Regions from separate parts of the Homo sapiens genome. Here all the other regions are reported to be linked to region 1. The links are microRNA targets in miRTarBase. Many come from high-throughput screens and were not tested one by one. Region 1 holds a microRNA gene; each other region holds the end of a gene's coding sequence. Distances are between the middles of the regions.
What was found. The annotated mature microRNA hsa-miR-4747-5p reads AGGGAAGGAGGCUUGGUCUUAG and lies in region 1 at 1,037-1,058, opposite strand. An mRNA with a match to its seed (bases 2 to 7 or 8) in the 3' UTR can be bound and repressed. Matches are read on the target gene's strand: a 7mer-m8 pairs with bases 2 to 8, a 7mer-A1 pairs with bases 2 to 7 and ends in A, and an 8mer does both.

Region 1 (4,000 bases):
CTGTGGACTGCAGTTTGCCAACTCCTAAGCGGTGTGGTTTGGCGTGTATGTTTATGAACAGAATGTCCCTGGAAAGTTGGTAACAGTGATGTCGCCAAAAAGGGGAACTGGGTGACCAGGCAGAGGAGGGAGAACCTTCATGTGTGGTCTTGGGTGCTTTCTATTTTGACCCTGTGAATGGGACCTATTCACCAAATTTGAAACAAACAAGAGAGAAAAAGAAAGCTTGAGGCCAGGCACGGTGGCTCACTGCCTGCAATCCCAGCACTTTGGGAGGCCGAGGCAGGCAGATCACGAGGTCAGGAGATCGAGACCATCCTGGTTAACGGTGAAACCCCGTCTCTACTAAAAATACAAAAAAATTAGCCAGGTGTGGTGGTAGACGCCTGTAGTCCCAGCTACTCGGGAGGCTGAGGCAGGAGAATGGCATGAACCCAGGAGGCAGAGCTTGCAGTGAACCGAGATCGAACCACTGCACTCCAGCCTGGGCAACAGAGCGATAAAAAAAACACCATGAGAAAAAGGAAGTTTGACAACTCTGCCTGTCAGGGCCTGGGGGTCAGAGACAGTTCCCTGGGCAGAGGCACTCAGGGGCACAAGGTGGTCGGTCTTAGAAAGATGCTCAGCAGTGAGCAGGAACAGACCCCAGAGGGGAGGCAGGAAGGCCAGGCCGGAGGCTAAGGGCCTCGCACACACAGCGCTGGCTGGACGGCTTCAAAGCCAGTCCGGGGGCCCCGGGAGGGGAGGAAAGGAGAGAGGAAGGGCTCGCCCCAGGACGCGAGGCTCACCCCAGCACCACGTTGGCGTAGAGTTCCCGCGCCGTCCTGGTCTCGCGCTTCCTGGAGATCTCCGCGTCGTACCAGAAGCCCCGCTCCTTGGGGTTGTCGGGGTTGTAGTTGAGCATGACCACCTGGCCCACCTCCAGGTCCTGCCACTTGATGATGGTGCGGGCGCGCGCTCGGACGTCCCTGGAGTTCATCTGGACCACGCCGTTCTCCGGGTAGCTGGGAGGAAAGCCCGGGCCTTAGACCCCGTGCTAAGACCAAGCCTCCTTCCCTCAATGGGAAACGAGCCGAGGTGGGACGGCCCCTCCCGACAGTGTGCAGAGGCCCCTCCCAACAGGCTTATATGCTGGTGTTGAGAACACACAGGTATATTAAGGCACATTCCAGGTACAAAATTGTTATGGGTTGCCCGTGTCCCCTGCAAAAAGAGATGTTCAAAGGCTGATCCCCAGTACCCACGAATAGGATTGTTTTTGGAAACAGGGTCTTTGTAGATAGAACCTTTGCAGATGAAATCATATTAAGATGAGATCACACTGCAGTAGGGTGGGCCCCAATCCAACAGGACTGGTGTCTTTAGAACAAGAGGAGAGGCCGGGCAAGGTGGCCCACGCCTGTAATCCCAGCACTTTGGGAGGCCGAAGCGGGAAGATCACCTGAGGTCAGGAGTTCAAGACCAGCCTGACCAACACGGTGAAACCCTGCCTCTACTAAAAATACAAAAATTAGCCAGGCATGGCCGGGCACGGTGGCTCATGCCTGTAATCCCAGCACTTTGGGAGGCTGAGGCAGGCAGATCATCTGAGGTCGGAAGTTGGAGACCAGCCAACATGGAGAAACCCCATCTCTACTAAAAATACAAAATTAGCCAGGCGTGGTGGCGCATGCCTGTAATCCCAGCTACTCGGGAGGCTGAGGCAGAATTGCTTGAACCCGGGAGGCAGAGGTTGCGGTGAGCCGAGATCGCGCCATTGACGCCAGCCTGGGCAACAAGAGTGAAACTCTGTCTCAAAAACAAAACAAAAACAAAAATTAGCTGGGCGCAGTGGTGCACGCCTGTAGTCCCAGCCACTTGGGAGGCTGAGGCAGGAGAATCGTTTGAACCCGGGAGATGGAGGGTGCAATGAGCCAAGATCACACCATTGCACTCCAGCCTGGGGGACAGAGTGAAACTGTCTCAAAAAAATAAAATAAGCTGGGCACAGTGGCTCACACCTGTAATCCCAACACTCTGGGAGGCTGAGGCGGGCGGAACACGAGGTCAGAAGTTTGAGACCAGCCTCACCTACATAGTGAAACCCCATCTCTTCTGAAAATACAAAAATTAGCCAGGCGTGGTGGCCACACACCTGTAATCCCAGCTACTTGGGAGGCTGAGGCAGGAGAATCGCTTGAACCTGGGAGGCGGAGGTTGCAGTGAGCTGAGACCACGCCATTGCACTCTAGCCTGAGTGACAGAGTAAGACTCTGTCTCGAAAAAATAAAATAAAAATAAAATAAAATAAAAATACAAACATTAGCTGGGTGTGGTGGCGGGCACCTGTAGTCCCAGCTACTCAGGAGGCTGAGGCAGGAGAATCGCTTGAATCCAGGAGGCAGAGGTTGCAGTGAGCAAGTCAACCAATGTCCGTGTTTAAGCCACACCGTCTGTGAAATCTCACGATGGCAGCACGGACAGACGCAGCCACCATCTGTGTCCACTGGTGTGTGGACCCCGAACTTGGCAGGTAGGAAGTGCCCAGTAAACACTTGTGCAAAGACTGGAGACTGACGTTAGGGGTGGGGATGAGGGAGAGATGACAAACCCGGAAGATGGAATAAAACAGAAAAACTGATGGGGTGGCAGTTTCAGCCACTGATCGAGCAGAACCCTCCGCGGAGACACAGGAGGGGGCAGCCGGCTTCGGGTCCCCAGGCTAGTCCCCAAGTGGGCAGCCTCGTATGCTGTTAGGAATTCGAGGATGGGGCCCCAGATCCTGATCACCATCTCGAGACAGTGCCAAGCTCTGGCCTGAACACCCGCAGCCAAGGATGCGCGTCACAGAGCCTGAATACCCAGGCCCGCCCACCTGCCATGACTCACTCGTCGTATTTCACGTGGTAAATGACGTCCTCCTCCAGCGCCGGCCTGGACGTGGAGCTGCAGGGCTCGTCCCGGGAGGGGGCCTTCCGCGTCACCCTGACCACCTGCGCCTCAAACCACGCCCCCATGTTCGTGTCCCGAGCATCGACGTACTCATTGACCTGTGAGGAATGAGGGAAGTCTGGCATCCCAACGGGGTGAGGAAAACTGACGGGAGACCACCTTGGTTCTCGGACACTGGGATGCTCTGGAACCAGGGCGCAAACTCGAATGCCCACAGCGAGGTTTCTCCTCCCTGGCTGGGAACCGCTGACCATGAGAAACCAGCCCCGGCAGGGGTGACGGGGATGCGGGGCCAGGGGGCATGGACTGTCTTAACAAAGGCCCCTGCGGCTCTGCTTCAGCCACAGCTGCTGGGAGGCCCTGAGAGACCAGAGCTGCCCATTTGTCAAGAGAAGCTGGAAATCCAGGCAGGGCGTCGTGGCTCACGCCTGGAATACCAGCACTTTGGGAGGCCGAGGCAGGTGGATCGCTTGAGCCCCGGAATTCAAGACTAGCCTGGGCAACATGGTAAGACGCTGTGTCTACTAAAAAATAAAACAGACTGGGTGCAGTGGCTCACACCTATAATTCCAGCACTTTGGGAGGCTGCGGCGGGAAGATCACTTGAGGCCAGGAGTTCAAGACTAGCCTGGCCAACATGGCGAAATCCCGTCTCTACAAAAAATACAAAAATTAGCCAGGTGTGGTGGCACATGCCTGTAATCCCAGCTACTCAGGAGGCTGAGGCACGAGAATTGCTTGAACCCAGGAGTTGGAGGTTGCAATGAGCCGAGATGGCACCACTGTACTCCAGCCTGGGCGACAGAATGAGACCATGTATTAAAAAAGTAATAAAATAAAATAAAATTAGCTGGGCGTGGTGGCACATGCCTATAACATCAGCTACTCAGGAGGCTGAGGTGGGAGGATCACTTGAGCCCAGGAGTTCGAGGCTACAGTGAGCTGTGATCACACGGCTGCACCCCAGGCTGGGCAACAAAGTGAGACCCTGCCAAAAAAAAAATAAAAAAATAAAAAAGCTGGAAACCCAGATCTTTCTGTGACATTTCCTGATCTTACATGGTAGCAG
Region 2 (4,000 bases), 30 Mb from region 1:
ACCAGCCTGGCCAATATGGTGAAACCCCATCTGTACTAACAATACAAAAATTAGCTGGGTGTGGTGGTGTGCCGCTGCTAGTCCCAGCTACTTGGGAGGCTGAGGCAGAAGAATTGCTTGAACCCGGGAGGCAGAGGTTGCAGTAAGCCAAGATCGTGCCACTGCACTCCAGCCTGGATGACAGAGCGAGACTCTGTCTCAAAAAAAAAAAGAAGATTAATTTTCCAGTTGTGATGGTGCTATAAAATAAAGCTCGTTGTTTTCAAAAGCTAATCCTGGGTTGGGCATGGTGGCCCACGCCTGTCATCCTAAGCACTTTGGGAAGCCAAAGTGGGTGAATTGCTTGAGCCCAGAAGTTTGAGACCAGGCTGGGAAACATAGCAAAAGCAGTCTCTATGAAAAATACAAAAATTAGCTGGGTGTAGCAGAAGTGCCTTGTAGTCCCAGCTACTTGGGAGGCTGAGGCAGGAGGATAGATTGAGCCCAGGATGTTGAGGCTGCAGTGAGCTGTGATCGTGCCATTGCACTCCAGCCTAGGCGACAGAGTGAGACCTTGTCTCAAAAAATAAAAATAAAAAAGCTAATCCTTTTAAGGAAAAAAATTAAATAAATAGCAGTGTGAGGAATATTTGAATAAAGCAAAAATTGTGACGGTAGTACTCAAAAGCGCCAAGATGGTGAGACGCTGCTTCAGGGTCCCTTGTGCTCTGTGTAAGTTTCCCCACCAGAGAGTAAATTTGTTTGACTCATCACTGCTGTTCATCCTGACATTTATGAAAGGCTCTTCAAGTTTTCTGGGATGAATGAATGAAGGAATGATTATGAGGCAGTCCTAGGCTGCAGGAGGCTGTAAAAGGTGGATTGTCTCACTTGTCTGTTTTCCACACACCCGTCCTTCCCCAAAGTTATCGGGAGCCCACTGGGTGAGCCCCTGTCCCAGAATCTGGTGTTCCATGTGGAAGATCCTCCTCCATGCGGAAGATCCTCCTCTGGTCCCTGCTGCCCCGGCAACCTGGGCCCTCAGGCGTGGCTGGGCTAAGGGTGGGGCCAGGAGTCAGGCAAAGGAATGTGCACTACTCCTGGCCAGCTGCCAAAGAGATATCAGGAAGGAGGTGGTTGCTATGGCAACTGGGGCATCTTGGGAGGTGAAGAGAGGTGATAGGTCCCGCCACCCCAGGCTGGGTGGGGTCCCCTGTGAGGTCCTGTGTGAGATGCAGGTTTCAATCTTGACCCTCTCCCCTCCTTTTGCACCTCCTGCCGTTGCCCCTGCAGGACTGGCTTCTGGCCAAGCTAAGGGTCCATTTCAGGGATAGGGACCCGGACCCAGCTGTGCTCATGCATCCCTCTTCTGTTCACTCCTAACTCTCCCTCCTGTTCTCTGGCAGGGTGGAGGGAGACTCTCCCCTCTTCCCCCCTCGCTCCCCAACAATTCATTAATTAGTTTCCTTAAGCAGCTTGCAATGCACAACATGCTTTTCCTCCCCCGGGGTTTCCCGAGACCTGCGGTCCCCTGTCATGCTGTGACTGGGAAAGGGGGAGGCAGAGGAGGTTGGGTTGAGGAGTCTGTCCTCCCACCTCTGCCCGTCTGCTGCCATCGATCCTGCTAACCACCACCTCTGCAAAAAGAAGCCCTGGGCTCCCGCCAGGCCTGCTGCCTCAGCCCTGCCCCCCTCCCTAGGGTAGCTTCCAGCCTCTGCAGCCCCCCCCACCCCCCGCCCTGCTTCGGATTCTGCAGATATGGCTCAGTGCAGCAGCCCCCGCCTGCTGGGAAGCGCGGAAGGGAGGGAGCCATCCAAGTGGAATTCGGGTTCCCTTCACTGCCAGGGGCTTCTCAGCACCCCTGGTCCCCTGCCCTCAGTGCTGGAGACCCTTGCTGGGCACTGGCTCCCTCTTGAAGCAGTCTGTGCCTTGCTCATCTGCAGAAGCAGGATTAGCAGTGGGGGCTATTAGGGGGCGACGGTAGAAGTGGGTGTTTAAGTGGGTGCATAACTGGGTTAATTGGTGTGGAATGGAAATCAGTGTGTGGCTGGATGGGGGCAGTAGGGGCAGCTAGGTGTATACCCAACAGCACCTCTGGGATTGGAAAACACCCCTGCTGTGGGCTGGAAGGAGGGTCCCATCGCCCCATTCCCACACATAGGGTCTCACTGCAGTGGTTTGGGCCCCACCCCACATGGCTCCCTTCTTCTCTTTCTACTCCCCTCTCTCCCCATGGGTCCGTCTCTCTCCCTCCGTCTCTCTGCTTCTCTCTCCATAGCGGTCTCAATCCCACTATCTCCCAGGCTCTCATTTTTTTTTCTCTCTCTCTCTGCATCTCTGTCTACTGCTCTCAGCCTCTCCCCTCCACTGGGAATCTCTCTGAGTCCATCTATTTGTCTTCCTGGGTCTTTGTATCTGTGACTCTGGATCTCCTGCCTCTCTTGGTCTCTGTCTCTTCCAGGTTCTCCCTGTCTGTCTCTTGCTATATCCCTTCTCTCTGTCTCTTCCTTCAGCTCTCACTCCTTTCCTCTGAACCTGGCTGTCAAGGGTTTCAGGAAACAGACACCCTAGGAGACAGCACTGGAAAGAAGAGGGACATGAACCTCCTCCCCTTCCCTTGCCCACCCCAGGGACCCTGAAATCTTCCAGAACGTCTCTGGTCGCAGACCCACCCGCTCCCACCCTGCAAGCTCATCTCTTCCCCGTCTGCTACCACCACGGTGCGGGACCAGCCACCCGGTTGCCATAGCGACCTGTCCGAGCATCCCTTCTCCCGGGACTGCCACTCTCCAACCGCAGGTCTGGCACAGGACGCCTGCCGGGGAGGGGGTGTCCCAGAGACCCGGAGGGGCGATCGGGGGGGCGCATTACAGGGGCTTCCGCCCACAGGAGGAGCGGACCTCCCTCCCCCAACTCCCTTGCCTTACCATTGCTTGAATCTCCCGACACCCTCTCTCCTAGGCTCTCAGATCCCGGAGCCCCCCTGCAACCCCCTCCCCAAACGACGCTCACCCTTTGTGGGGGTCTGGGTCGGGGTCGCCATGCTGGGCCGGAGCAGGGGGCTGCTGGATGCTTTGGCGGCGAAGGCGCGCTGCAGCAGCTGGAAGCAGGACGGACCGATGTGGGGGGGAGCTGGGGGGAGCCCTGGCGTGGGGGGGCCTGCAGCCAATGGGGGCCCGGGGAGCCCGCCCCCGTGCAGGCCACCCCCGCCCCCGCCCCCGCCCACCACCGTCGTCCCCGCCCCTTCCTCTAGGGTGGGGCGCCCCCTGCTGGGGCCCAGTGGCGCTGGCGTTTCGCGCTGAGGGACCGAGACCGACAAAGTGCTGTCGAGAGGAACGCACGTTTTATTGGAAGTCTTGGCGGCAGGGGGAGTCTGCGGGGGCAGGGCTGGGGAAGGGGCGGCGGAGGGGGCGGTGGGCGCGCAGGTGGAGCGTGGGAGATGTCAGGTGCCAGGGGAGTCCTGTGAGGGTGAAAAGGGTGAGAGGCGAGGGGGGACGTCCAGCCCCACCCCTCGCCGCCCTTCAACTCTGGCACTTGGCCCCCTCCCTCTCCCGCCTTTCCTTCCTCCCTCCTTCCCTCCCACCGCCGTGTCAGAGCTGCAGCACCTGGCCGGATTCCATCGCTCCAGGTGTTTCTACCGCCTGCGGGTGGACAGACCTGGGGGGAACACGGAGATCGGGGGTCATTCTGGAGAGGCATCCCCAGCTCCTGGGCAGGTGGGGCCCGCGGCGGGGCAACTCCCCGCCCTCCGCTTTCAGATCCAGCCCTTCCCTCTACGCAGCCAGGGAGGGCCGGGAAAAGCGGTCCTTGGAACCAGCCCTCTCCCCAGAATACCCGCAGTCTCCCCAGACTCACGGCGGATGGAGCTGCGGAAAGTTCCCTCCTCTTCATCGGGTTCCCCAGTCCTGGGAAGACAGAGGCAGAGGGATTTCGGGATGGAAAGGGGGAGAGGCTGCCCTTCTAGGAACCCCCCAGTACAAGCCTCCTTTCCCAGATTGGTGTAACTAGGCCCAGATATGGA
Region 3 (4,000 bases), not on the chromosome of region 1:
GCTACGGGCACTGTCCCGCCAAGACACTTTTGATGCCGACACCCCCGGCAGCCGAAACTCTGCCTACACGGAGCTGGGAGACTCATGTGTGGACATGGAGACTGACCCCTCAGAGGGGCCAGGGCTTGGAGACCCTGCAGGGGGCGGCACGCCCCCAGCCCGACAGGGATCCTGGGAGGACGAGGAAGAAGACTATGAGGAAGAGCTGACCGACAACCGGAACCGGGGCCGGAATAAGGCCCGCTACTGCGCTGAGGGTGGGGGTCCAGTTTTGGGGCGCAACAAGAATGAGCTGGAGGGCTGGGGACGAGGCGTCTACATTCGCTGAGAGGCAGGGGCCACACGGCGGGAGGAAGGGCTCTGAGCCCAGGGGAGGGGAGGGAGCGAGGGGCTCACACCTGACATGTATTCGCCTCCAGGGGGCGCTGTCTCCCTCCTTTCAGATGCCTTTGCTCAAAGCTTGGGGTTTCTTTGGTGTTACCATCCCAGCTCCCGGGAGGCCCTTAAGCCCCAGCTGTCGGTTTTTACCTGCCTGTTGTGGATGGATGGGGGATACCCACCTTTCTGAAGTGTCCCCTTTCTCCCATCTTAAGGGGCTCTCCTCCCTCACCCTCCTAGAGAAAAGGTGCACTTCCTTAACTCTTTCTACTCGGGGCCCTAAGTGACGGTCCTAAGTGGGATGGCTCTCCTTCTCCCAAGCTGCAGTACTGGGGAAGGGCTGGGCGCTTTTCCTGGAAAGGGAGGCCACAGATTCTTTCCCATGGGGGCTCTCTTCCCCAGACCCCAGATCCAAGGTCCCTCACCCTGCCTGCCCCTTCCTCCCAGCTTCCTGGCAGCATCGTCTGGTCGGTGAAAGCCATAGCATGGACACCCCATGGGGAGCTTGTCTTGGGGAGGGTTCTGGGTGGAAGCTGGCAGGCATACAGCACCCTCTACCCTCCGTGGCCATGGCAACGTCCAGGGCCCAGAACCCTGAGGAGTGAGCGGCCGAGACGCTGCTCCCCACCCCCCACCTCCATGCCTCAGCCTTTGCCTACCCCAGGAATGAGCTTGGCCTCCAACATCCCTTGCCTGCTGCCATTAGTAGAGGGGGCCCCTCTGCATCTGAGCCCCCCATCCCTGTGCCACCTGGGTGTGGAGCCCATGGAACACTCTGGTCCGCCTCATTTTAAACCAAAAAACTGCTCCTTCACCCTCACCCTGAGGCCCCAGGGGAGAGGACCCGTGGGATGGTGCCCAGGGGTTGCCTTGGGACCTCGGATCTCCTCTGGGGGGCTTGGCTGCTGCTGTTGCTGCTCTGTATTTGCCTCTCGTGATTCTGTTTGTTACCCATGTTCACTTCCCCCAGGAGAGGCCTTGGTACCCCCTCTCCCCTGGGGCATCCCTTTGCCTTGGCATCCCTGTAGCCCAGCAACCCTGCCCCTCCCCAGCATCCCAGCTGGGCCAGAGAGAGCCGAGTGTGCCAACAAGGACTGGGGCCTGCCCGGCTGCCCGCCTCAGGGATGGGCACCTCATGCCTGTCTCGCCACCTCCTGTGCCAATGTCCCACCCTCCACCTGGGGGTGGGGTGCAGCTTCCACTTACTGATTAGAAGACACCACTGCCCTCCCTTCCCCCCTCCCTGTCTGGTGTCCTGTGCCCCCATCTGTCTGTCTATATTTGTCTGTACTCCCCTAGGAGAAGTATTTTGCCATATATAAAACCACTGTCCTGTCCTTTGTGGCTGCCTCCCAAGCCTGCTTCTTTGTCCTCGCCACATAGTCGTCAGCGTAGGCACCTGGGAGCTGCTGATATGCACGGGGAGTTGAAAGGGTGGGTGCCTGAAGATGTTGTGCCCTGAGTCATTGACTCAAAAGAAAAGATGATCCTTTGATTTTGGCCCTCTGATGTATTGTGCCCAAGCCAGGAGCTGCTTGGGCAGTCCCAGCTCCACACTGGCCCTGAGCCCCTTCACTTACCTGTCTCTCCACAAGTAGAGCCAAAGGCAATGGGAAGCTCAATGTTGCTCAGTGGGTGAGATCCAGACCCACTGGTGCAATGTCTTAAATACACATGACTGTTTTTCTGCTCTTGTGGCATCACTGTGCCCCAACACCTCAGGAGAGGGAGGGGCTGAGCTTCTGGCTCCACTAATGCCCCCCTCGTTCCTGCTAACCAGCTTTGGGGACAGGGAGGCAGACTACTTGTGGGGGCAGGTCAGAGAAAATCAGGGATTCTGCCAGTCCCAGACTGAAAGTCAGCAGGTGAGTGTACCCATTCCTCCCATCCCCAGCTGGCAGGATGTGGACTTCTGACAGTTACTGCAACCACCTGTGTCCTGCCTCACACAGTACCCTCAAACTATTTCCCCTCCCTCCTGGTTCTTTTTCTTTTTTTTTTTTTGAGATGGAGTTTTGCTCTTGTCGCCCAGGCTGAAGAGTGCAGTGGCGCGATCTCGGTTCACTGCAACCTCCGCCTCCCAGGTTCAAGTGATTCTCCTGCCTCAGCCTCCCGAGTAGCTGGGACTACAGGCACCTGCCACCACGCCTGGCCAATTTTTGTATTTTTAGTTGAGACAGGGTTTCACCATGTTGGCCAGGCTCCTGATCTCAGGTGATCCACCCACCTTGGCCTCCCAAAGTGCTGGGATTACAGGCATGAACCACTGTGCCCACCCTGGTTCTTGTTTTTTGTGCTGGTCGCCGTGGAGGACTAAAATTCCTGAGTCCGCTACCTGAGTGCTGAGGCCCAACATGAGTGAGTGTGTGTGTGTGTGTGTGTGTGTGTGTGTGTGTGTGTGTGTAGGGCAAAAGACATCCCCCAAGACCCTACAGATGAGGAGTTAGTGGATCAAAGGAAAGGGAAACTGGGCAGGCCCAGAGGTCAAGTGGCTGACCCCAGTTCCCTGGGGGAGCCAATGGCAAAGTTGATGAGAGCCTAGTCTCTGCCTCCCAGCATAGTGCATTTCCCACTGCCTTCCTACAGAATCATTCATTCCTGTGTTTCTTCCTTGAACAAATGTTTATTGAGCACCTCCTATGTACCAGGCACAAGTCTACGTAGGGGCCATAGATTATTTCAGCACAGCATAATGTGCTCTCTGCTGTGGGAGCACTGGGTACTGTGGGAGCATTGGGTACTGTGGGAACCTGAAAGAGGGGTTAGTCCCATAACCTGGGGAGGTCAGCTGAGGCTTCCTGGCAGAGGTGAGGCTTGAGTAGAATCTGGAAGCATGGTTAGCAGACAAATGGGGAAAGTGTTCAAGGCAGAGAAAGCAGGGGACATGCATGACATATTCTTGGCACCTCACCACCAAAGTGTGCTCTCAAGGTGAATTGGCAGGAGCAGGTCACAGTGGGCCTTGAGTCATGTTAAGGAGTTTGGGCTTTGTCCTGAAGCTCGTATGCAGAAATGGAAGGATTGTAAGCAATTAGCAAGATTGCTTTGTTTGCAGTTTGGCGCATAGATTGGAAGGCCTAGCTTAGAAACAGCTGTGATAATCCAGGTGCGAAAGGAGGGTTTGCCTTACGCCACAGCAGTGGGACTGGAAGGGAGGCAAAGAGGCCAGAGAGATCTAGCAGTTAGATGGCCGGGCTTGGTGGCTTATGCCTGTAATCCCAGCACTTTGGGAGGCTAAGGGGACAGGAATGCTTGAGCCCAGGAGTTTTAGACTAGTTTATGCAACATAGTGAGACCCACCTTTTTACAAAAAATTTTAAAAATTAGCTGCGTGTGTAGTCCCAGCTATTCGGGAGGCTGTGATAGGGAGGCTGAGGTATGGTGGATCTCTTGAGCCCAGGAAGTCAAGGCTGCAGTGAGCTATGATCACACCACTGCACTCCAGCCTGGATGACAGAGCGAGACCGTGTCTCAATAAAGAAATTAAATTAATAAATAAATGTTAGCATCTTGAGCTCTTGGAGAGCAAGTGGAGGCGGCTGATAAGAGAAAGGAAGGTGAGGCCGGGCACGGTGGCTCACGCCTGTAATCCCAGCACTTTGGGAGGCCGAGGTGGGTGGAT

Region 2: miRTarBase lists FXYD1 as a target of hsa-miR-4747-5p. Seed matches in the 3' UTR shown: 7mer-m8 at 3,370-3,376.
Region 3: miRTarBase lists CACNB1 as a target of hsa-miR-4747-5p. Seed matches in the 3' UTR shown: 7mer-m8 at 1,609-1,615.

Annotation. Positions count from the first base shown.
Region 1 is chr19:4,929,745-4,933,744 of GRCh38, reverse strand. It overlaps MIR4747 (microRNA 4747), which reads right to left and starts at 1,058; the gene lies at 1,005-1,058. UHRF1 (ubiquitin like with PHD and ring finger domains 1) reads right to left here. Exons shown (of 17, transcript NM_001048201.3): 4 at 2,869-3,029; 5 at 789-1,004. RefSeq lists an enhancer at 2,665-3,164.
Region 2 is chr19:35,142,356-35,146,355 of GRCh38, reverse strand. FXYD1 (FXYD domain containing ion transport regulator 1) reads right to left here. Exons shown (of 8, transcript NM_021902.4): 6 at 3,835-3,884; 7 at 3,585-3,636; 8 at 3,247-3,439. The coding sequence ends at 3,614. FXYD7 (FXYD domain containing ion transport regulator 7) reads right to left here and starts at 3,101. Exons shown (of 6, transcript NM_022006.2): 1 at 2,992-3,101. The coding sequence starts at 3,022. RefSeq lists enhancers at 2,318-2,879, 2,880-3,440.
Region 3 is chr17:39,171,521-39,175,520 of GRCh38, reverse strand. It overlaps CACNB1 (calcium voltage-gated channel auxiliary subunit beta 1), which reads left to right. Exons shown (of 14, transcript NM_000723.5): 14 at 1-2,068. The coding sequence ends at 328. It overlaps CACNB1-AS1 (CACNB1 antisense RNA 1), which reads right to left and starts at 892. Exons shown (of 4, transcript XR_934743.3): 1 at 804-892. RefSeq lists an enhancer at 1-113.